Linked DNA regions of Homo sapiens. The protein of the gene in region 4 purifies or fractionates together with the protein of the main gene of each other region. This does not show direct contact. Each region holds a gene or a part of one and is shown on either strand. Other genes may lie near its edges.

Region 1 (2,632 bases), on a different chromosome or scaffold from region 4:
TGGGTTTTTGCCAAGCCTCCTCCATCTCCCATCAGTGCTGTGGGCTGGCTGCAAGCCTCGAAACAGTTCTCCTGGAAGGGAGGTTTTTGCTTTACCCCCGCCAGCACTTCCGCACACAATCATAGAGAACCTCTCTGCTCTCTGCTGGCCTACAGCTTGTCTGTTTCTCAAGCAGAGGCAGGAAGAGCTAGTCTTAGCATTTATATTTTAATAGGAAGTTGACTCCCAGCATGTAAAAGTGATCCACGCAGCCGGAGTGTATGCCGGGAGCTAAGTGGTCTATGGGTGAACATATCCCACCTTGCTTCCTGAGTCCTTGGTCCCAATCTTCTCATTTGTTCCTCTCGTTTTAAATTTTTTCCCCCCAACTCTTTTGATGTAAGAGTTCAGTTTGTCTTCGGGAGTGGGTCTCTGCAAGGGCTCTGGGATGAGTCTTGGCTTCCAAGAGGACAGGCTATTAGGTTCTTGGACTTTTTTCTGTGCTACCGCTGCTGCTTGGTGGAAGTAACAGGACGTGGATTCTGCCTCATAAGTGGCAGTTTCCCTTTTCTCTCTGACTTGTCCTAGGCCGATTTCTCTATGGCTTCCCTGAGAAAGGTGAGGCCCAAAGGAGAGAGGCCTTCAAACTGTCCCAGGTCCTGCGCAGCTCAGTGCGTATCTTCTTGCTTCCATGTGTCTTTTCCCCTGCTGCCTCACTCCCCACCCCCACTTGCCAGGTGTTTGAGCCATTTCTACACCAAAGCAAAGTACGGCCTCAGGAGGGAGTAAAAAGGGTGCCATCTGTGTCTGGAGGGGCAGCTGTGTTCATGCCCTGTGCTACTGGACATTTCACAATTCTGGCACCTTGCGATTGGTCAGTCAACCTCAGAAAGTAACTATCTTGAAGGTTTGAAAAACAACCAAAGAAAGGGAGTGAGGACTATGGCTGCATGTCCTCTGCTTGCCCGGCTGCAGAGCAGAGATGTGCAGCCCTCTGGTCAGCTGGTCCAGGCTGGTCCCCGCCGGTCCCCTTCCAGTCCAGCCACCAAGAGTCCACTTGTCCCGGGCTTCCACCTGGCTGACAGGAAGAATTTCTGAGAGCTGGATGTGCATGCCCTGTGGACGAAGGTACAGCTCGCCTGCCTGCCCCAATCCCAGCCCCGACAATCACATGCAGCTGACTCGGACACTGGCCTTGGGAACAATGTTCGAGAGAACACTTGCCCCTTGACTGTAGGAGCCAGAAGGGGACCCAGGTGTGCATAGCTCTCTGTAGACATTTTTACCCAAACCTGTTGGTAAAGTGCCCATCTGGTGCTCAAGAGAGCCTGGGGGTCTAACAGGGAGCCCGGCTGCCTCACCTGGCCACAGCCTCCACACCAGATCTCCACATTGTCTTGATCCAGACCAGCTCTGTGATCAGAAGGAAATTGGGTCCAGTGTAGGAGAGAGCTGGTCCTGGGCCTGGCAGGCAAGAGTGTGGGCATCCTTTCCTGGCCTTTCTCCACTCTCCCTCAAGCCTGTGCTCAGGTTGCCTTGAATGTGGACTCTGGAAGAGCCAGGGGCCCAGAATGCCGGGGGAGGCTTCTGAGTGGCACTCATGGAACACCGTCCCTCTGCCAGCCATAGGCCCTGCCTCCAGTGTCAGGGAATGGAGGCTGGGCTGCGAGAGTGTTGCTGCCCCCTGTGTCATTCTTCTAATCCAATGTAGAAATTGTACGTAATGTATTTAAATCAACGCAAATGTATGAATAACAAATACAGTTCTGACCTTTTTTGTCCAGTTTCTTTGGGGGAAGGAAGACAAAGAAGGTAGGAACGGAATTTTGAGGGCAAAGAAACCTGTGTTTCCATGGAATTGCTGAGACGTGGCTCCTGGGGCTATTTCTCCCTAATAAAGGATGATCCAGGTCCTCATTTCCAAAGTCCCAATGCTCTGAAAACCAAAAGTATTTTCATAACCCATTTGAAACCAAACCTGACCTGAACTTACACTGATAGGAAGCTATGGGTAATTATGATGTGTTCCTTTTAGTGTGATTCTTTGTTGCAGAAATGTCAATATATTTTATGACATGGTTCCCTACTAGGGATTATACAGTATTTGCTGACTACTTCCTAAGAGCCAAAAATAAAAAATCTGAATTCCAAAATAATCTAGTGCCAAGGGCTTGGGATAAGAAATGTGGACCTACAGGCTGGGTGCAGTGACTCACACCAGTAATCCCAGCACTTTGGGAGGCTGAGGTGGGTGAATTGCTTGAGGTCAGGAGTTTGAGACCAGCCTGGCCAACATGGCGAAACCTCGTCTCTACTAAAAATACAAAAATTAGCTGGGTGTGGTGGCACACGCCTGTAATCCCAGCTACTTGGGAGGCTGAGGCAGGAGAATCACTTGAACCCGGGAGTTGGAGGTTGCACTGAGCCGAGATTGCACCACTGCATTCCAGCCTGGAGTAAGACTTTGTCTCTCAGTAAATAAAAATAAATAAATAAATAAATAAACAATAAAATAAAAAAGAGGACCTACCTGACTCAAGGTAGTAGTGGTTCCTCCTCTTGGCCACCAGAGGGCAGCCCTGCCCTGTGTACATCACTGCCCCACTTCAAACCCTGAATAATCAAGCATATAGGGTGGGTGGAGAGGGAGAAG
Region 2 (3,500 bases), on a different chromosome or scaffold from region 4:
AGGCATGTGCCACCACGCCTGACTAATTTTGTATTTTTAGTAGAGACGGGGTTTCTCCATGTTGGCCAGGCTGGTCTCGAACTCCTGACCTCAGGTGATCTGCCCACCTCGGCCTCCCAAAGTGCTGGGATTGCAGGCATGAGCCGCTGTTCCCTGCCAATTTTTAATTTTTTAAAGAGCCCCTATCCTGTTTTCCTTCATGGCTATACTAACTTACATTCTTTTTTTTTTTTTTTTTTTTTTTTTTAGTGAAAGGAAGTTTATTAAGAAAGTAAAGGAATAAAGAATGCCTACTCCATAGGCAGAGCTGCCCCAGGGGCTGCTGGTTGCCCCTTTTTGTGGTTATTTCTTGATCGTATGCTAAACAAGGGGTGGGTTATTCATGCCTCCTCATTTTAGACCATATAGGGTAAAATGACGTTGCCATGGCATTTGTAAACTGTCATGGTGCTGATGGGTATGTCTTTTAGCATGTTGATGCATTATAATTAGCATATAATGAGCAGCAATGACGACCAGCGGTCACTCATCACCATCTTGGTTTTGGTGGGTCTTAGCTGGCTTCTTTACCACAGCTTGTTTTATCAGCAAGGTCTTTATGACCTGTATCTTGTGCTGATCTCCTATCTTATCCTGTGACTTAGAATGTCTAACTTCTTGGGAATGCAGTCCAGTACGTCCCAGCCTTATTTTACCCAGCCCCTACTTAAGATGAAGTTGCTCTAGTTCAAACACCTGTGACATTTCCCCTCTCCCTTTTATAAAAGAACCCTTAATCCTAAGGGTTGCAGAGGGACAAAGATCCATCTTCTGTAAACTTTTTCATGCTGAATAGGGGCAATGATATTCCTGTCTAATTATTAGGGTCTCTTGTATTCAGGATAGAGAGGAGCTCAGTCAGAAAGCGTCAGGGTGAGGGTCGCTTATAACTCTGAGTTCCGACAAAAGGTGATATCCAGAGTTGGCCAATCAGTGCTGCAGTCTATTTCTTTTGGGTCGGGAGGATCTCCTCAGTATTGTCCCTTCCATGGTTTGCCAGAAAGATGTTACTGCAAAGGGGCCCTGATCCAGACCCCAAGAGAGGGTTCTTGGATCTTGTGCAAGAAAGAATTCAGGACAAGTCCATAAAGTGAAAGTAAGTTTATTAAGAAAGTAAAGGAATAAAGAATGGCTACTCCATAGGCAGAGCAGCCTATACTAATTTATATTCTCACCAGCAGTATACCAAGATTTCCTTTTCTCCGCATCCTCACCAACACTTGTTATCTTTTATCTTTTTGATAATAACCATGCTAACAGATATGAAGTGATACCTCATTGTGATTTTGATTTGCATTTTCCTGATGATTAGTGATGTGGAGCATCTTTTCATAAACTTGTTGGCCATTTGTATGTTTCTGGAAATATGTCTATCCAGGTCTTTTGCCCATTCGTAATCAGAGGTTTTTTTTTTTTTTTTTTGCAATTGAATAGTGTGAGTTCCTTATATATTGTGATGATTTTTTTGTGTGTATGGTAAAGCCTAATGTAAAATTTACCAATTTAACCGTGTGTGTGTGTGTGTGTGTGTGTGTGTGTGTGTGTGTGTGTTTGTATTTTTTTTATTTTTTATTTTTTTATTTTTTGGAGACAGGATCTTACTCTGTTGCTCAGGCTGGAGTACAGTGACATCATCCCAGCTCACTGCAGCCTCAACCTCCCAAGCTCAAGTGATATTCCCACTTCAGCCTCCTGGGTAGCTGGGACTATAGGCATGTGGCACCATGCCTGGCTAATTTTTGTATTTTTTGTAGAGATGAGATTTCGCCATGTTGCCCATGCTGGTCTTGAACTCCTGAGCTCAAGCAATTCTCCTGCTTCAGCCTCCCAAGGTGCTGGAACTACAGGCGTGAGCCACCACACCTGGCCTTTTTGAACCATTTTTAAGTGTAGAGTTCAGTGACATTTAATACATTCACGTTGTGTACAACTATCATCATTATTCATCTCTAGAACTTTTTCATCACCCCACATTGAAAACTGTGTACCCCATTAAATAATAACTCTGTTTCTCTCTCCCCTCAGCCTCTGGTAACCACTAGTCTAATTCCCGTCTCTATGAATTTGACTATTCTACGTACCTTTTATAAATGCAATCATACAATATTTATTATTTTATGTCTGGCTCGTTTCACTTAGTATAATATCTTCAGGTTCATCCATGTTGTAGCATGTGTCAAAATTTCTTTCCTTTTTAAGGCTAAATAATATTCCATTGTATGTATGTATACACACACAGCACACATACACACACACACAGCACACACATACCACATTTTGTTTATCCATTTTTTTATTTGTGAACACTTAGGTGGTTTCCACTTTTGGCTGTTGTGAATAATGTTGCTATGAACATTGATGTACAGATATCTATAGTAGAAGTATCTGCTTTCAGTTCTTTTGGGTATATATCCAGAAGTGGAATAAGTGGATCATATGATAATTCAGTGTTTAATTTTTTGAGGAACCACTGTACTGTGCCCTACAATGGCAGCACCATTTTACATTTCTACAAGCAATGCACAAAGTTTCCAATTTCTCTACATCCTTGCCAACACATGTTATTTTCTTATTTTCTTGCTTTCTCTGTTTTTGATAATAGTCATCCTATTGGGTATGAAGTGGTATCTCATTGTGGTTTTGATTTGCATTTCCCTGATTATTAGTGATATTGACTGCATATGTAATTTTATAAGATATTGCCAAATCCCTCTCTAAAAGGAAATGTTGCATTCTTTTTTTTTTGTTTGTTAGTTAAGCAATTATTTTATTGCTCAAGTACATAGACAAATTTATGCAACCAGGGCAGAGGCTGTATATGATTCATATTTCCAGTTGGGAGAGAGGACTCACTTGGTCTTATAATATCGAGCCAAACAGTGAATCCGGCTCTCTATCAGAATCAGACAGAATTTAGCATCCTCATCCTTTCTCTTCCTCTCAAGAAGCTTTTGAACAGCAACTGCTGCCTTAATTAAATGGTAGAGATCTTCAGGGAGATTAGGAGCGGTCCCTTAGACTTAAGAATTCTTAAGATTTTATTGCCTGTCACAAATCGTACTTGTGCAGCATCATGTGAATCTCTCAGGATCCCACCGATTTGTGAAGGAGTCAGGCCCTTCTTGGCCAGTTTTTAAATCTGCTCCTTCATGTCGTCAGATGTCAACTTCAGCCCCTACTTCAGCAACCCCACTTCAGTGGGGATGCTGCAGCGATAGAGCAAAGCTGACTGAGACAGACCCTTCCCAGAAGCGTGCATGTGACCCATGATGGCAGCTGTCAGGCAGCAAAAGGAACATTCTTACTAACGATGCATGAGTACCTATTTCTTCATAGCCTTTCTTAACAGCATATATAGTCACAATTTTAAATTTTTATCAGATAGATGAGAAGTGGTATTTCAGTATAGTTTTAATTTCAGTTTGTTTGTTTGTTTATTTATTTATTATCTTTGAGACGGA
Region 3 (4,143 bases), on a different chromosome or scaffold from region 4:
GCATTTTTCTATGCTAGCATTCTTTTAATTTTTTTTTTTAGACAAAGTCTTTCTAAAAAGAATTTCTTCTTTTTTTTTTTTGAGACAGAGTCTTGCTCTGTCGCCCAGGCTGGAGTGCAGTGGTGTGATCTCGGCTCACTGCAAGCTCCGCCTCCCAGGTTCACGCCATTCTCCCGCCTCAGCCTCCCCAGCAGCTGAGACTACAGGCACACGCCGCCACGCCCGGCTAATTTTTTTGTATTTTTAGTAGAGACGGGGTTTCACCATGTTAGCCAGGATGGTCTCGATTTCCTGACCTCGTGATCTGCCCGCCTTGGCCTCCCAAAGTGCTGGGATTACAGGTGTGAGCCACCACGCCCGGCCACCAAGAAATTCTTGTTTAATTTTGCCTAATACTAGTATCATTTTTTTGGATTACACATATAATGCATGCTATTACAATTTGGTTATAGAAGTATATAATGAGAGATTATTTTTCCCCCATAATCCCAAAGGCATATATCACTCCAGAAATTTGTGTTTAAAAATTAGGATATGTCTATTTTACTCTTTCCTTATCTCATAGAATGTTTTGAATTAAAGTGTTTATTTCAAAATAAAATACTTAGGCCAGATGTGGTGGCTAACGCCTATAATCCCAGCACTTTGGGAGACTGAGGTGGGAGAATCACTTGAGCCCAGGAGGTCGAGGTTGCAGTGAATCAAGATTGCCCAACTAGGCCAGGCGCGGTGACTCACGCCTATAATTCCAGCACTTTGGGAGGCCGAGGCAGGTGGATCACAAGGTCAGGAGTTCAAGATCAGCTTGGCCAAGATGGGGAAACCTTGTCTCTACTAAAAATACAAAAAAATTAGCTGGTAGTGGTGGCAGGTACCTGTAATCCCAGCTACTTGGGAGACTGAGGCAGAGAATTGCTTGAACCCAGGAGGCGGAGGCTGCAGTGAGCCGAGATCACGCCACTGAACTCTAGCCTGGGCGACAGAGTGAGACTCTGTCTCAAAAAAAAAAAGATTGCCCTACTGCACTCCAGAGTGAGACCTCATGAAGAGAGAGAGAGAGAGAGAGAGAGGAAAGAAAGAAAGAAAGAAAGAAAGAAAGAAAGAAAGAAAGAAAGAAAGAAAGAAAGAAAGAAAGAAAGAAAGAAAGAGAATTGAATGTGGCTGAAAAAAATCGGAAGGCACAAAAAAATACAATAAGGATTAACTCTCCCTCCACCTCCCACCCTCTGCCCCCATCCCACATTACCCACTGTCACTATTTCCTATATACATGTGTCTATGCATATACATCTAACCACACCCTTTTTGTTTAAACACAAAGGGCAGCCTGTGACACACTGTGCTGCATCTTGCCTTGTTCATTTAGCCATGAATGTTGTAATTCACAGCAGTTAAGCAATTTCTTTGGCCTAAAACTTTATTCTGGTCCTGCTCACTAGTTAACTCATAGCCATACAACGGTACCCAAAGAACATCTACATTAATCCACCACCACCATCCCCTCCCCTTCCCCTACCCCATTCTCTGGCTTCTAACCCCCCTCTACTCCCTTCTTCCCGCCCAGGGCACCTACTCACTTACCTGCCAGATGTAGGATGAGGCTTAAGATGACCACTTGAGGATGCATTATGGGATCAGCCTGAAGGAAAATGAGCAGACAGGCTGGTTGGTACCCTCCACCAGATGGTATCTGATCAAGTCTTAAATCTCAGATTGCAACTTATCTTTTCACCCAGTTGGTTGATTCATATGAGCCTGCTCTGCTGGAAATGAGAGAAGACCACATATAACGGCTTCAGAGCTCTGTTAGTTCCCTGCAGCTGAGAGCTCTGTGCCTTCCAAAGGACAGGGAAAGCTGTCCACAGAAACAGCCCCTGACTTCCCAGCTTCTTCCCCACACATAACCGCCAAACTGACTCCTGGTCCTGATACAGGGTATCAGGGGAACAAACAAAAAGGAAACAGGGCCGGGCGCGGTGGCTCAAACCTGTAATCCTAGCACTTTGGGAGGCCAAGGCGGGCAGATCACGAAGTCAGGAGATCGAGACCATCCTGGCTAAAAGGGTGAAACCCCGTCTCTACTAAAAATACAAAAAATTAGCCGGGCGTGGTCACTGGCGCCTGTAGTCCCAGCTACTCGGGAGGCTGAGGCAGGAGAATGGCGTGAACCCGCGGGAGGCGGAGCTTGCGGTGAGCCGAGATCGCGCCACTGCACTCCAGCCTGGGCGACAGAGCAAGACTCCGTCTCAAAAAACAAAACAAAAAAAAAGAAAAGAAAAGGAAACTGGAAGCAGAGAACCAGCGTGGCTCAATGGCAGCACGAGAGCAAATGCCAGCCTTCCAGTGGCAGAGATGCACTTGCTTTTCAGAGTAAACTGGGCCTCTGGTGGACGTGGAGCTTTTCCTACTCAGTGGCCACAACGACTTATCCCTAGCCTTAACAGTCATATTGCCAAGTTTGCCATTAGCAAGAGAAATTGAGAGTGAATGTGAATCACTGTGCCTAACCTTTCATGCTCCTGTACAACATGCTTCAGACTACACCTCCTTACCAAGGGACTTCAAGAGAATGCTTCAGGAAACAGAAGTCTGGAGCAGACTTACGTTCAGATCCAGGCTCTGTCACTCACAATGCTGGGTAACCCTGAGAGTTCCTGAGTTCTCTTCAAACCTCTATTTCCTCAGTTGTAAAATAGCACTAAAAATGCTTCCTCTATCTCCCACCAAGGATTGATATAATAAGCAAAAAGGGCCACGGAAGAACTTGGAAAACTAAACCTACATCATATGCAGTAATAGCACTAGCTGAGGTTTTTGGAGAATACTATATAGCAGGCTCTGTGTCAAGCACCCACATGCGTTAAATCGGGCTGTTGACTTCTGCTGTTAATCATTAAACCATACAAACATGAGTAAGCTTGCCTAGTACTTCATTAACTCCTCTTCTGGTCTAAGAATTCAGTAACTTCCAAGGAGGCAGTGGTGGTCTGTATCTTGCAGCTCATGACAGGGTTCATGGGGAAGTGGATGATCTCAGCATAGTGTTTTGTATGGCAGCGTTTAAAAATTCATTTCTTGACCGGGCATGGTGGCTCGTGCCTGTAACCCCAGCACTTTGGGAGGCCGAGTAGGCCAGTCACCTGAGGTCGGGAGTTCAAGACCAGCCTGGCTAACACGGTGAAACCCCGACTCTACTAAAAATACAAAAATTAGCTGGGGGTGGTGGCGGGCGCCTGTAATCCCAGCTACTTAGGAGGCTGAGGTAGAAGAATTGCTTGAACCTGGAAGGTGGAGGTTGCAGTGAGCCGAGATCAAGCCATTGCACTCTAGCCTGGACAACAAGAACAAAACTCCATCTCAAAAATAAAAATAAAAATTCATTTCTTGCCAGGCACAGTGGCTCACGCCTGTAATCCCAACACTTTGGGAGGCCAAGGCAAGTGGATCACCTGAGGTAAGGAGTTTGAGACCAACCTGGGCAACATAGCAAGACTCCCTCTCTGCAAAAAAAACGAACAAAAAATATAGTCAGGCCTTGTGTACCTGACCGTAGTCCCAGCTACTCAGGAGGCTGAGGCAGGAGGGTTGCTTGAGCCCAGCAGTTGGAGGCTATGATTGTGCCACTGCACACCAGCCGGGGTGACAGAGCAAGACCCTGTTTCTTAAGGAAAAAAAGATTGAAAAAAAAAAGCTAATTCAATTCAACCAGTTATTACTAACATATTGAGCTGATGGGACATGACTCAATATACTAGGGACGTCAAAAATCCAGACTTGTGCAATCGGGCAGGGACATGGGTAAGTAAGCAACTAATGAAATCAGGATAAGTGAGGTAAAGGTAAATATATAATCAGACTACATCATTCCCCCACTTATAACCCTCTCATAACTCTCTCAGAAAAATAATAATAATAATAATAATAATAATTCCTAAATCTTTACTCAAATTACTGAAGCCCTGGTGGTCTGGCCCTGACCTACCCCATAGATTTCTTCTACCACTCTCTCCCCTGCTGACTCAGCCCCAGCTACTAGAGCTTTCTTTCCAACTTGCCTCAACCCTAAGGCCTTTTCCGTGGCTGTGTTCTCCATCTAGCTCCCCAGCCCCACCATTTTCACTTTTTTCCTTTTCATTTTTATCC
Region 4 (3,500 bases):
GTACCCTTAAGAGTCTGAGACTGCGGTGGGCAGTGGGGAGAGGGCAGACATGGGGGCCAAAGGCAGGAGCTGCCCCGGGCAATCTGGTGGTCCTCCTAGGGCAGAACTCCCTACCGCCCCTGTCCACCAGGTGGGTCTGCTGATGGTGTGTCAGAAACCAGGCCTAGGGTTTAAGAGCTCCCAGACCCATTAACCTCTCCCTGTTTTCATTCAGTCTTTCTTCTTCTTCTTTCTTCTTCTTCCTTCTCCTTCTTCTTTTTTTTGAGACAGAGTCTAACTCTTGTCCAGGCTGGAGTGCAGTGGTGCGATCTCGGCTCACTGCAACTTCTGCCTCCCAGGTTCAAGCGATTCTTCTGCTTCAGCCTCCCAAGTAGCTGGGATGACAGGCGTGCGCCACCATGCCCAGCTAATTTTCTGTATTTTTAGTAGAGATGCGGTTTCACCATGTTGGCCAGGCTGGTCTCGAACTCCTGACCTCAAGTGATCTGCCCACCTCAGCCTCCCAAAGTGCTGGGATTACAGGCATGAGCCACCGCTCCCAGCCTGTGTCTTTCATTAGCAGAGATTTCCTGGGCACCTCCAGCATGCCCAGCACTCTGTTAGGCACTGGGGACCCAGCCACCAACAAGACACGTAGGGCTGGGCACTCATGGAGATTAAAGTCCAGTAACTTTAATCTGGACTTCAAAGCATCGCTTCTGATATGAGGTTACAGAAAAAAAAAAAAAAAATCAACGAAGCAACTGGTTTCTGGGAGCAATAGTGCAGTAAGGGAAAAACATGTCACAGGGGGTGGGGCAACTTGGGGTGTCAGGCAAGGCCTCAAAAGGAGGTGAACCCCCCAGCTGAGGCCTGAGAGATGAAAAGGAACAAGCTGCCGGGCGCGGTGGCTCATGCCTGTAATCCCAGCACTTCGGGAGGCCGAGGCGGGCAGATCACTTGAGGTCAGGAGTTCGAGACCAGCCTGGCCAACATGGTGAAACCCCGTCTCTACTAAAAATACAAAAAATACAAAAAAAAAAAAAAAAAGTCCAGACACGGTGGCTCACGCCTGTAATCCTAGCACTTTGGGAGGCCAAGATGCATGGATCACCTGAGGTCAGGAGTTAAAGACCAGCCTGGCCAACATGGGAAAACCCTGTCTCTACTAGCTATACAAAATTAGCCAGGTGTGGGCTGGGCACGGTGGCTCATGCCTGTAATCCCAGCACTTGGGGAGGCCGAGGCGGGCGGATCACGAGGTCAGGAGATCAAGACCTTCCTGGCTAACATGGTGAAACCCCATCTCTACTAAAAATACAAAAAATTAGCCGGGCGTGGTTGCAGGTGCCTATAGTCCCAGCTACTCGGGAGGCTGAGGCAGGAGAATGGCCTGAATCCAGGAGGCGGAGCTTGCAGTGAGCTGAGATCAGGCCACTGCACTCCAGCCTGGGCGACAGAGTGAGACTCCATCTCAAAAAAAAAAATTAGCCAGGTATGGTGGTGGGTGCCTATAATCCCATCCACTAGGGAGGCTGAGGCAGGAGACTGGCTTGAACCCTAGGGAGGCTGAGGCAGGAGAATTGCTTGAACCCTAGGGAGGCTGAGGCAGGAGAATTGCTTGAACCCGGGAGGCGGAGGTTGCAGTGAGCTGAGACTAAGCCACTGCACTCCAGCCTGGGTGACAAAGCAAAACTCTGTCTCAAACGATGAGGAAAAAGCTAGGTGTGGTGGCGCATGCCTGTAATCCCAGCTACTTGGGAGGCTGAGGCAGGAGAATCACTTAAAGCTGGGAGGCGGAGTTTGCAGTGAGTTGAGATAGCGCCACTGCACTCCAGCCTGGGCAACAGATTGAGACTCTATCTCAAAAAAAAAAAAAAAAAAAAAAAAAAAAAAAAAACCAAGGCTGGACGTGGTGGCTCACAATCCCAGCACTTTGGGAGGCAGAGGTGGGTGGATCACCTGAGTTCAGGAGTTCGAGACCAGCCTGGCCAATGTGGTAAAACACCGTCTCTACTAAAAATACAAAAATTAGCTGGGCATGGTGGCGGGGGCCTGTAATCCCAGCTTGAACCCGGAAGGCGGAGGTTGCAGTGAGCCAAGATTGCACCACAGCACTCCAGCCTGGGCAACAAGAGCGAAACTCCGTCTCAAAAAACAAAAAACAAAAACCCTAGAAAAGCCCCTGGCCCACCTAGGAGCCAGAGTGTAGGGAGAAAAGTGGGAGGGAGGTCCAGCCCCTTCACACACCCTCCCACACCCACTTTGGTCTCCGTGCTACAGCCACACAGCCCCCTCCCCACACATCTTGTCTAGGCCGCCTCCCCCTATCCCAGGGCCTTTGCATCTGCCGCCCCTGCAGCCTAGAGCCCCATCTCCCCCATTCTTCACGTGGTTCCTTCTGTTCATTCCGTTCTCTTCAATGTCACCTCCTTGGCAAGGCCTTGCCCCATGTGACCGTTCACCCATTTCATACCTCCACTGCCAGCATGGGAGGGCAGGGGCCCTTTCTGTCTCATCCACCAGAATTTCATGAATTAAGCCCATTTCTTGGCTGGGTGTGGTAGCTCATGCCTGTAATCCCAGCACTTTGGGAAGCCAAGGTGGGAAGATCACTTGAGGCCAGGAGTTCAAGACCAGCCTGGGCAACACAGCAAGACCCTGTCTCTACAAAAAAATCAAAGAAATGAAAGAACTTATTATTATTATTATTATTATTATTATTATTATTATTATTTTGAGACAGAGTCTTACTCTGTCACCCAGGCTGGAGTGCAGTGGCACGATCTTGGCTTACTGCAACCTCCACCTCCTGGGTTCAAGCAATTCTCCTGCCTCAGCCTCCTGAGTAGCTGGGATTATAGGTGCGTGCTACCACGCCCAGCTAATTTTGTATTTTTAGTAGAGGCAGGGTTTCTCCATGTTAGCCAGGCTGGTCTTGACCTCCTGGCCTCAAGTGATCCACCCACTTTGGCCTGCCAAAGTGCTAGGATTACAGACGTGAACCACCACACCAGGGCTTTTTTTTTTTTTTTTTTTTTTTAGCCCATTTCTTTTGGCCTGTCATCTGGGGAAGGCCAAGCGTAGTAGATTAGTAGCCAAAGACGCTTCGGCCCTGGAGCAAGACTTCCCAGGTTGGAACCCCAGCTTTGTGGACTATGTAGCTGTGTGAGTTTGCTCACTTGAGTTAATTCCTCTGTGCCTCAGTTTCCCCATCTGTAAAATGGGGGTAAATGTGCCCAGCACCTGGCAGGGCCTGGCTCCTCATGGGCTCAATAAATGTTTGAAAGAAGGAAAGGGCCAGGCGTGGTGGCTCACACCTGTAATCCCAGAACTTTGGAAGGCCGAGGTGGGCAGATCACTTAAGGTCACAAGTTCGAGACCAGCCTGACAAACATGGTGAAACCCCATCTCTACTAAAAATACAAAATTAGCAGGGCATGGTGGCGCTTGCCTATAATCCCAGCTACTCGGGAGGCTGAGGTGGGAGAATCGCTTGAACCTGGGATGTTGAGGTTGCA
Region 5 (3,500 bases), on a different chromosome or scaffold from region 4:
TTGGGATATGCTCCCTGTGCCTAGGTGCTGCCCTCAGACAGCTTCGGAGCTCAGTCTCTCACTTCCTCCAGGCCTCTGCTCAGGTGTCATACTTCTGACAGCCTCTTCTCCTCCCTGCATATATAAAAAAAGCAACTCCCTGCACTAAAGAAAAGGCCAGGACACTAGGACAAGACTCTTGCCACCCCTTACTATCTTCTTCTCCACAATTACTCATCACAACCTAACATGCTTATGTACTGGTTCATTTGTTACTGGCAGTCTCCCTGGGACAGAAATCTGACAGCATAATGGTTGCAACTCAGCTAAAGCCATTTAATGAAATCTATATTCAAGGACAGGACAATTAACCCTAGAAGCAACGCTGTAATTCCATATTCAGAGACTCACTTGAGGACTGTTTTATTTCAAGAAATAATATGAAGATACAGCACATGATAGAAAAATATCTAAATAACTCTACAAAGTCAGCCCAACTCTAAAGATCGTGTTCTCAATAATGCAGAGCAAAAGAGGCAAACTTTCAGAAACAGAGAAACAAAATACAGAGATTGGTGTGCCAAGTGACAGTTAGATGTGGAATCATGTTTTAAACTAATAATTCTTAAACTTCTTTAGAATCAAGTACTTCTGACAATCAGACACCCTTTCCATAAAAAATGCACATATAACCCAAATTCTGCGTCAACTTTAGGAGGTTCATTGGACACCCTCTCCTACCTCCCTCCAGTTAAGAGCCCCTAACTCCAGACAAGACAGCAAAGGAAAGCTTCCTCAGTGAACTCCAGATCAGCACAGCTGAGGGGCTGGGACTTGCCCAACATCTGCTTCTTTGTCTGGCTCAGCAGCACCACCTGCCAACCATTCTTAGCATGAACAACAGAGGCACTTAGCAACAACTCAGAAACAGCATTTTTACTCATCAGCAGCTGCCTATGTGCCCGCCCTACACAGCACCTTGGGACATATGAAGATGAGGAGGAGCCAGAGTGCCCCAGAAAAGAGAGTATAGTAAGGGAAAGAAAACACCTGCCATGCCACAGGGAAGACAGTGACAAGTGACCCAAGGGAGAGCCAAAGCAAGAAGAGTTGTGATGACAGAGATGATGTCCAGCTGGGAGCTCTGCAGACACTCAGGTGGGGCAACGTGGGAATGGCAGGAGTAGTTGGCGGTGATAACAGCAGGGGCAGAGGTTGGCCAGAAGGAAGGCTCTCTGGCAGAGCTTGTAGATGGCAGGAAACCAGAGAACCACTGAGCCTGTCTTGAGCAGGGGCGACAATGTGAGCAAGATGTCACATGGTGACTGGGGGGCAGGCTCATGGTGCTCCCAGGCCTGTTGCCAGCAGAGCCCTCCTGAGAAGAGCTGACCATTTGGCCCCACCATCCTGCCCACACTGGCCATTAGGAGTGGGTGCCTGGCAAGGGCAGCAGTCCACTGTCAGACACAGCCTATCCAGCCTCTGTCCCTCTGACTCACAGGAGTGACAGTGACTGGGGCATGCATCAGGCCTCAGTCACAGTGTGAACGAACAAGAGCAATAGGAAGAGTGAGGACGGAGCTGGGATACTGGGAAAGAAGGCCCAACATGGAAGCCAAAATGAGTGGACAAACAGCAGAGCAAAAGGGCGTGAGCCTCCACGAGATCCCATGGGGACTGGCAAGAAGTGTTAGTGGCAGAGGCCCGGTCATCCAGGAGGCCTGACCTACAACAGCACACACATCCTTCCAGAGAGCCTGCACCACTCAAGGCAGCATTGGCCAAACCATGTGCCTGGAACCCCAGGTGTATCAACAGTGGGGTACAGAAAATTTCTCCTTGCATGAGTTCAGAAACAGTCACAGAGCTCCTGCCGAGGCTGTGCAGGGGGTGTGTGGGCAGATGCAGTAGGCGGTGTCTCAACTTCCTGGACAATATGATACTTTCTCAGTAAGTGCAGTAGCGGGGACCAGTCAGGAAAAGACATGAGTAGCGTGAATTACTCTGCTACCTAAGGAACCTCATGAAGGCAGCCTGACTGGGATGGGGAAAAGGTGGGATGAAGAGGTGGAACAGGCATGACAGGAAGGAATCAAAAGTGATGAACAGATGTGGCAGACGAGAAGGAGCCTCCAGATGCTTGAAGCTTCAAGGTGGAACTGTATGAACGGAGATGGCACGGTGGGCATGCTCTGAGCACTCCTCTGTGTTGGCTGAGAGGAGGGAGCAGGTGGTGGGCGGGGGGACATGGTAAGAGGCCTAGGGTGTGACTGTAGTGTGCAGTAGGGAAGCAGCACCCACCCCAGGCAGGACACCCAGCAACTTCAGAAGCAGATTCTGAGAAGGTGGTGGAAAAAGAAGCAGAGGGACCAGCAATGATAGGCTGTTGAAGCCCATGCCCAGAGCAAGCTAAGAGCATGTCCTGAGGCCAGGTCCTGCTCTTCCAGCTTCAGCCCACAGGCGGCCAGGGATGGTGAGGGCTAAAGGGCATGCACCTATGCAGAAAGGGACCACAGACAAGAAGAGGGCTTTCAACTTACCATCTGATACTTGGTGCATTGGAGAATGCATCAAATGGACAGTGAGGAAAACACCATTAAAAGGTGGATCTCTCACATGCTACATTCTAAAACATTACATTTTGTTAAAAAAAAAAAAAAGACATACAACTGCCTTTCAAGGTAGGGTAAAATGCTCTGTGCTTTCTTTGAGGTGTAATTAGGCATATTTGTTGATAGATAAACCAGAACTGTTGGTTTGATCTTGGAGCAAAAGTGAGGCAATTGCTTCCATAAACCATAGAGAAAAGTTTTAATATTTAAAGCAGATTTTGAGGAAGCAAATGTGCTTTCATCTCTCTGGAAGAGCTGGTGTAAATGTTTTGTTTAAAAAATGACACTCTCAGGAGTGAGCATTTATGAATGAAGTAATTGAAAACAATTACACTTGCTTTTTATCCAGTCCTATTAAGGCTTGTTTGCCTTTGAAGCAGACATGAGAGCTACCTTTCCAGAAACCAGGGAGGGAAAGCAGGCAGGAGAATGCAGATCAATTTAGAGGCCTGGACCCTGTCCCAAATCTGATATTTCTACAGCAGAGAAAAGCATTCTTTGTCAATCAAGTACTGAGGAAAACTGTTTACACCATTCTTAAGGTTACAAAAAGTACATCATGACATCACTCAGTAAGGACAGACTACTAAAAACTGTCCTTACCACATATCGGCCTTGTCACATATTTCTAATCACCTGTCAGTCACAAGTTTTAGAACCTTAAGGAACTTTCAAGATCTCCTAGCCTAGTGATTTTTACATTATGATTATTTTTAAAAGCAGTAAACCTTTTAATCAAAAGCAGAGATCCAGGATATCAATCTGGGCCGGCCATGCAATTGCTCTGGCTGGGACTGTAGTGGGGGTGGTGGGAGTTCCAGAAACCTTTCTCAGAGGCCCACAGGGAAGCCAGGAGGCCCTGGGAAAACAGTGAAAAAGGTACCAGGGCTCAGGGTGCAGCTGAGCTCA
Region 6 (3,500 bases), on a different chromosome or scaffold from region 4:
AGAAATTTCAAAAGTGTCATAAGAATGAGATCCTCCTAATATGTCAGTGGAACAATTGTTAAAAATTGGAAGAAAGGAAATGAGACTGCCGGGGAGTTTATATAGTTCAATAAAGAGCTTCAAGCTGAACCATGTGAAAGTATGCCACAGATGTCATGACATTCACCCCTATAAAACATAAATACACACAAATAAGACAAGTATGAAAAAATGTAAACAACTGTTGATTCTAGGTGGTCTAGGTGAGTGAAAGGTGATCATTACACTACTCTTTCAACTTTTTGAATTTTGAAAACTGTCACAATTAAAAGCCAGAAAAAGGGCTTTGAAGTTGAGAGTAGACCTTAGTCTCACTGTAAAGCAACAGAAGGCAAACAAAAACAATAAGAAAGATTTAAAAAGTAAAATTTAGGGTGGAAAAGTGTTCCAGGAGCAGGAACGATGATCTCAGGAGAAGCCAATTTATTAAATAGGAAAAAAATAGTAGAATTTGCAATATATTTGAAAACCAAAGAACATTTACAACAACAGATCCTGAAGACCACGAGAAACTCAATCAGCCAATACATGTATTTAATGCCCACAAAGTCCTATACTAGACATTTTGGATGACAAAATAATACAAATTCATGAACACTTGCCTTCAAAGAATTTATAATCCAGATGGAAACACAACGCATGTGTTTGAATATATGTCCTTGTCTAAATCTCATGTCAAATTGTATTCTCCAGTGTTGGAGGTGGAGCTTGCTGGGAGGTGACTGGATCATGAGGGTGAATTTCTAATGAATGGTTTAGCACCATCTCTCTTGGTGCTGTCCTCCTGATAATGAGTTCTTGTGAGATCTGGTTGTTTGTAAAGTGTGGCACCTGCCCCCACTCTCTCTTGCTCCTGTGTAACCATATGACACGCCTGCTCCTGCTTCATCTCCTGCCATGAGTAAAAGCTTCCTGAGGCCTCCCCAGAAGCAGAGTGATGTCGGTGCATGCTTGTACAGCCTGCAGAATCGTGAGCCAATTAAACCTCTTTTCTTTATAAATTACCCAGTCTCAGGTATTTCTTTATAGCAATGCAAGAAGAGCCTAACAAAGAAAATTGGTGCCGAGGATGGGGTGTTGTTATAAAGATACCTGAAAATGTGGAACTGGTTTTGGAACTGGGAAACAGGCAGAGTTTGGAGGGCTCAGAAGAAGATAGGAAGATGAGGCAAAGTTTGGAACTTCTTAAGAGACTGTTTAAATGGTTGTGACCAAAACATTGATAGTGATATGGACAGTAAAGTCAGGCTGCTGAGGTCTGAGATGGAAATGAGAAGGTTACTGGGAACTTGTGCAAAGGTCACACGTGTTACGTCTCAGCAAAGAGCTTGACTTGCATTCTATTCATGCCCTAGGGATCTGTGGAACTCTGCACTAAAGAGTGACAACCTAGTATATATGGTAGAAGAAATTTTTAAGCAGCAAAGTATTCAAGAGGTAACCTGGCTGCTTCTAACAGCCTATCTTAGCTGAAGGGTCAAATAAATGATTTAAAGCTGGAATTTATATTTAAACAGGAAGCAGAGCACAAACATTCAGAAAATTTGCAGCCTAACCATGTGGCAAAGAAAAAAAAAGTTTTTTCTGGAGAGAAATTCAAGCAGGCTGTGGGGCAACCGCATGCTACAGATATCTGCATAACTAAAAGGGAGCCAAGTGCTAATATCCAAGACTACGGGGAAAAGGCTTCAAAGGTATTTCAGAGACCTTTGCAGCAGCCCCTCCCACCACAGGCCCAGAGGCCCAGGAGGACTGAATGGGTTTATAGGTCAGACCCAGGGCCCCACTGCCCTGTGCAGCCTTGGGATCCCAGCATTCAGGCCACTCCAGCTCCAGCCATGGCTCAAAGAGGCTGAGGTACAGCTTGGGCTGCCATTTACAGAATGCAAGCCGTAAGTCTTGGTGGCTTCCATGTGGTGTTAAGCCTGCAGGCACACAGAGTTCAAGAGCGAAGAATGCTTGGCAGCCTCTGCCTAGATTTCAGAGGATGAGAAAACCTGGGTGCCCAGGTAGAAGCCTGCTGCAGGGATGGAGCCCCCACAAAGCACCTTTAGTAGGGCAGTGTGGAGGGGAAATGTGGTGTTGGAGCCCCATTCAGAGTCCCCGCCAGGGTACTGCCTAGTGGAGCTGTGAGAAGGGGGACATTGTCCTCCAGACTCCAGAATAGTAGATTCATTGGCAGCTTACACCCTGTGCCTGGAAAAGCTACAGGCACTGAACAACCTGTGAGAACAGCTGTGGGGGTTGAACCTTGTAAAGCTACAATGGTGGAGCTGCCCAAGGCCTGGGAATATTTACCCAATGCCTATAGCCCCTTTGTGTCTTGGAAGTAAGTAACTTGTTTTTGCTTTTTTATTTTACAGGCTCATAGGTAGAAGGGACTTTCCTTGTCTCAAATGAGACTTGGGCTTGGGACTTTTGAATTAATGCTGCAGTCAGTTAAGATTTTGGGAGACTATTAGGAAGGCATGATTGTATTTTGCAATATAAGAAGGACATGAGATTTGAGTATTTTTCCCCACTCAAATCTTATGTCAAGCTGTAATCCCTAATGCTGGAGGTAGGGCCTGGTGGGAGGTGACTAGATCATGGGGGTAGATGTCTAATGAATGGGTTGGCACCACTCCCTTGGTGCTGCCCTCATGATGGTGAGTGAGTCCTTGTGAGATCTGCTTGTTGTAAAGTGTGGCATCTCGCTCAACAGAAAACTCTTTCACTCCTGCTTTTACCATGTGACATGCCTGCTCCTGCTTCACCTTCTGCCATGAGTAAAAATTTCCTGAGGTTCCCACTAGAAGTCGAGCGATGTCCGTGCCATGCTTGTACAGCCTGCAGAACTGTGGGCCAATTAAACATCTTTTCTTTATAAATTACCCAGTCTCAGGTATTTCTTTACAGCAACACAAGAACAGCCTAATACAGCATATATTAAAAAAAAAATGACAGCACTTATTTATATGTTCTTGGAGTAGCTACTGAATCTCTGGGGTGTGTGTGTGTGTGTGTGTGTGTGTGTGTGTGTGTGTGTTTTGTTTGCCTTTTTTTTCCCACTCTAAACATCTTTATTCACCATCCAAAAGAGTTAAGTCCATCTCCTCCCAGAAATTTGCCTTAAATAGAGACAGATGACTCTAGATTATCACTGATGTGACTAGAAAGAACTTCAAGGTTTACTTGCTTCACATTCCCACTTTCAAACTGTCCCCACCTAGGTTATTTCAAGCATGCAAAATTTTGACAACATGAAACATTTTAAGGAAGTTGCAGAATCCTATGTCACTTAGAGAAAGCAAGACTGATTACAATCCTGTACTATGAAATGTTTTATAGAAGTGGTTTTATTTAGAACTCTACAGTCTTCCTTTTAAATTTCTCTCCTAAATGTACAATTTTATTTCTAGTCCTAATCTGCCAGTTCCATACCTGATCCCAGCTATGGTCACAACTAGTCTATTTTTTTG

What was found.
Region 1: the proteins of MARCHF2 (region 4) and PI4K2A purify together in Homo sapiens (affinity purification with mass spectrometry, with the first as the bait; one large-scale study listed by BioGRID). This does not show direct contact.
Region 2: the proteins of MARCHF2 (region 4) and ALDH9A1 purify together in Homo sapiens (affinity purification with mass spectrometry, with the first as the bait; one large-scale study listed by BioGRID). This does not show direct contact.
Region 3: the proteins of MARCHF2 (region 4) and HAVCR1 purify together in Homo sapiens (affinity purification with western blotting; one study listed by BioGRID). This does not show direct contact.
Region 5: the proteins of MARCHF2 (region 4) and HADH purify together in Homo sapiens (affinity purification with mass spectrometry, with the first as the bait; one large-scale study listed by BioGRID). This does not show direct contact.
Region 6: the proteins of MARCHF2 (region 4) and TM9SF2 purify together in Homo sapiens (affinity purification with mass spectrometry, with the first as the bait; one large-scale study listed by BioGRID). This does not show direct contact.

Annotation. Positions count from the first base shown.
Region 1 is NC_000010.11:97,674,303-97,676,934, forward strand, and holds the end of PI4K2A (phosphatidylinositol 4-kinase type 2-alpha), read left to right. Parts: 3' UTR 1-2,132; downstream 2,133-2,632. UniProt on the Homo sapiens protein: Membrane-bound phosphatidylinositol-4 kinase (PI4-kinase) that catalyzes the phosphorylation of phosphatidylinositol (PI) to phosphatidylinositol 4-phosphate (PI4P), a lipid that plays important roles in endocytosis, Golgi function, protein sorting and membrane trafficking and is required for prolonged survival of neurons.
Region 2 is NC_000001.11:165,671,063-165,674,562, reverse strand, and holds part of ALDH9A1 (4-trimethylaminobutyraldehyde dehydrogenase isoform 1 precursor), read left to right. Parts: intron 1-3,500. UniProt on the Homo sapiens protein: Converts gamma-trimethylaminobutyraldehyde into gamma-butyrobetaine with high efficiency (in vitro). Can catalyze the irreversible oxidation of a broad range of aldehydes to the corresponding acids in an NAD-dependent reaction, but with low efficiency.
Region 3 is NC_000005.10:157,056,317-157,060,459, forward strand, and holds the start of HAVCR1 (hepatitis A virus cellular receptor 1 isoform a precursor), read right to left. Parts: upstream 2,801-4,143; 5' UTR 2,605-2,800; intron 1,926-2,604; exon of another isoform or gene 1,640-1,925; 5' UTR 1,628-1,639; coding exon 1,582-1,627; intron 1-1,581. UniProt on the Homo sapiens protein: Phosphatidylserine receptor that plays an important functional role in regulatory B-cells homeostasis including generation, expansion and suppressor functions.
Region 4 is NC_000019.10:8,426,805-8,430,304, forward strand, and holds part of MARCHF2 (E3 ubiquitin-protein ligase MARCHF2), read left to right. Parts: intron 1-3,500. UniProt on the Homo sapiens protein: E3 ubiquitin-protein ligase that may mediate ubiquitination of TFRC and CD86, and promote their subsequent endocytosis and sorting to lysosomes via multivesicular bodies.
Region 5 is NC_000004.12:108,027,889-108,031,388, reverse strand, and holds part of HADH (hydroxyacyl-coenzyme A dehydrogenase, mitochondrial isoform 2 precursor), read right to left. Parts: intron 3,451-3,500; exon of another isoform or gene 3,320-3,450; intron 1-3,319. UniProt on the Homo sapiens protein: Mitochondrial fatty acid beta-oxidation enzyme that catalyzes the third step of the beta-oxidation cycle for medium and short-chain 3-hydroxy fatty acyl-CoAs (C4 to C10).
Region 6 is NC_000013.11:99,507,972-99,511,471, reverse strand, and holds part of TM9SF2 (transmembrane 9 superfamily member 2 precursor), read right to left. Parts: intron 1-3,500. UniProt on the Homo sapiens protein: In the intracellular compartments, may function as a channel or small molecule transporter.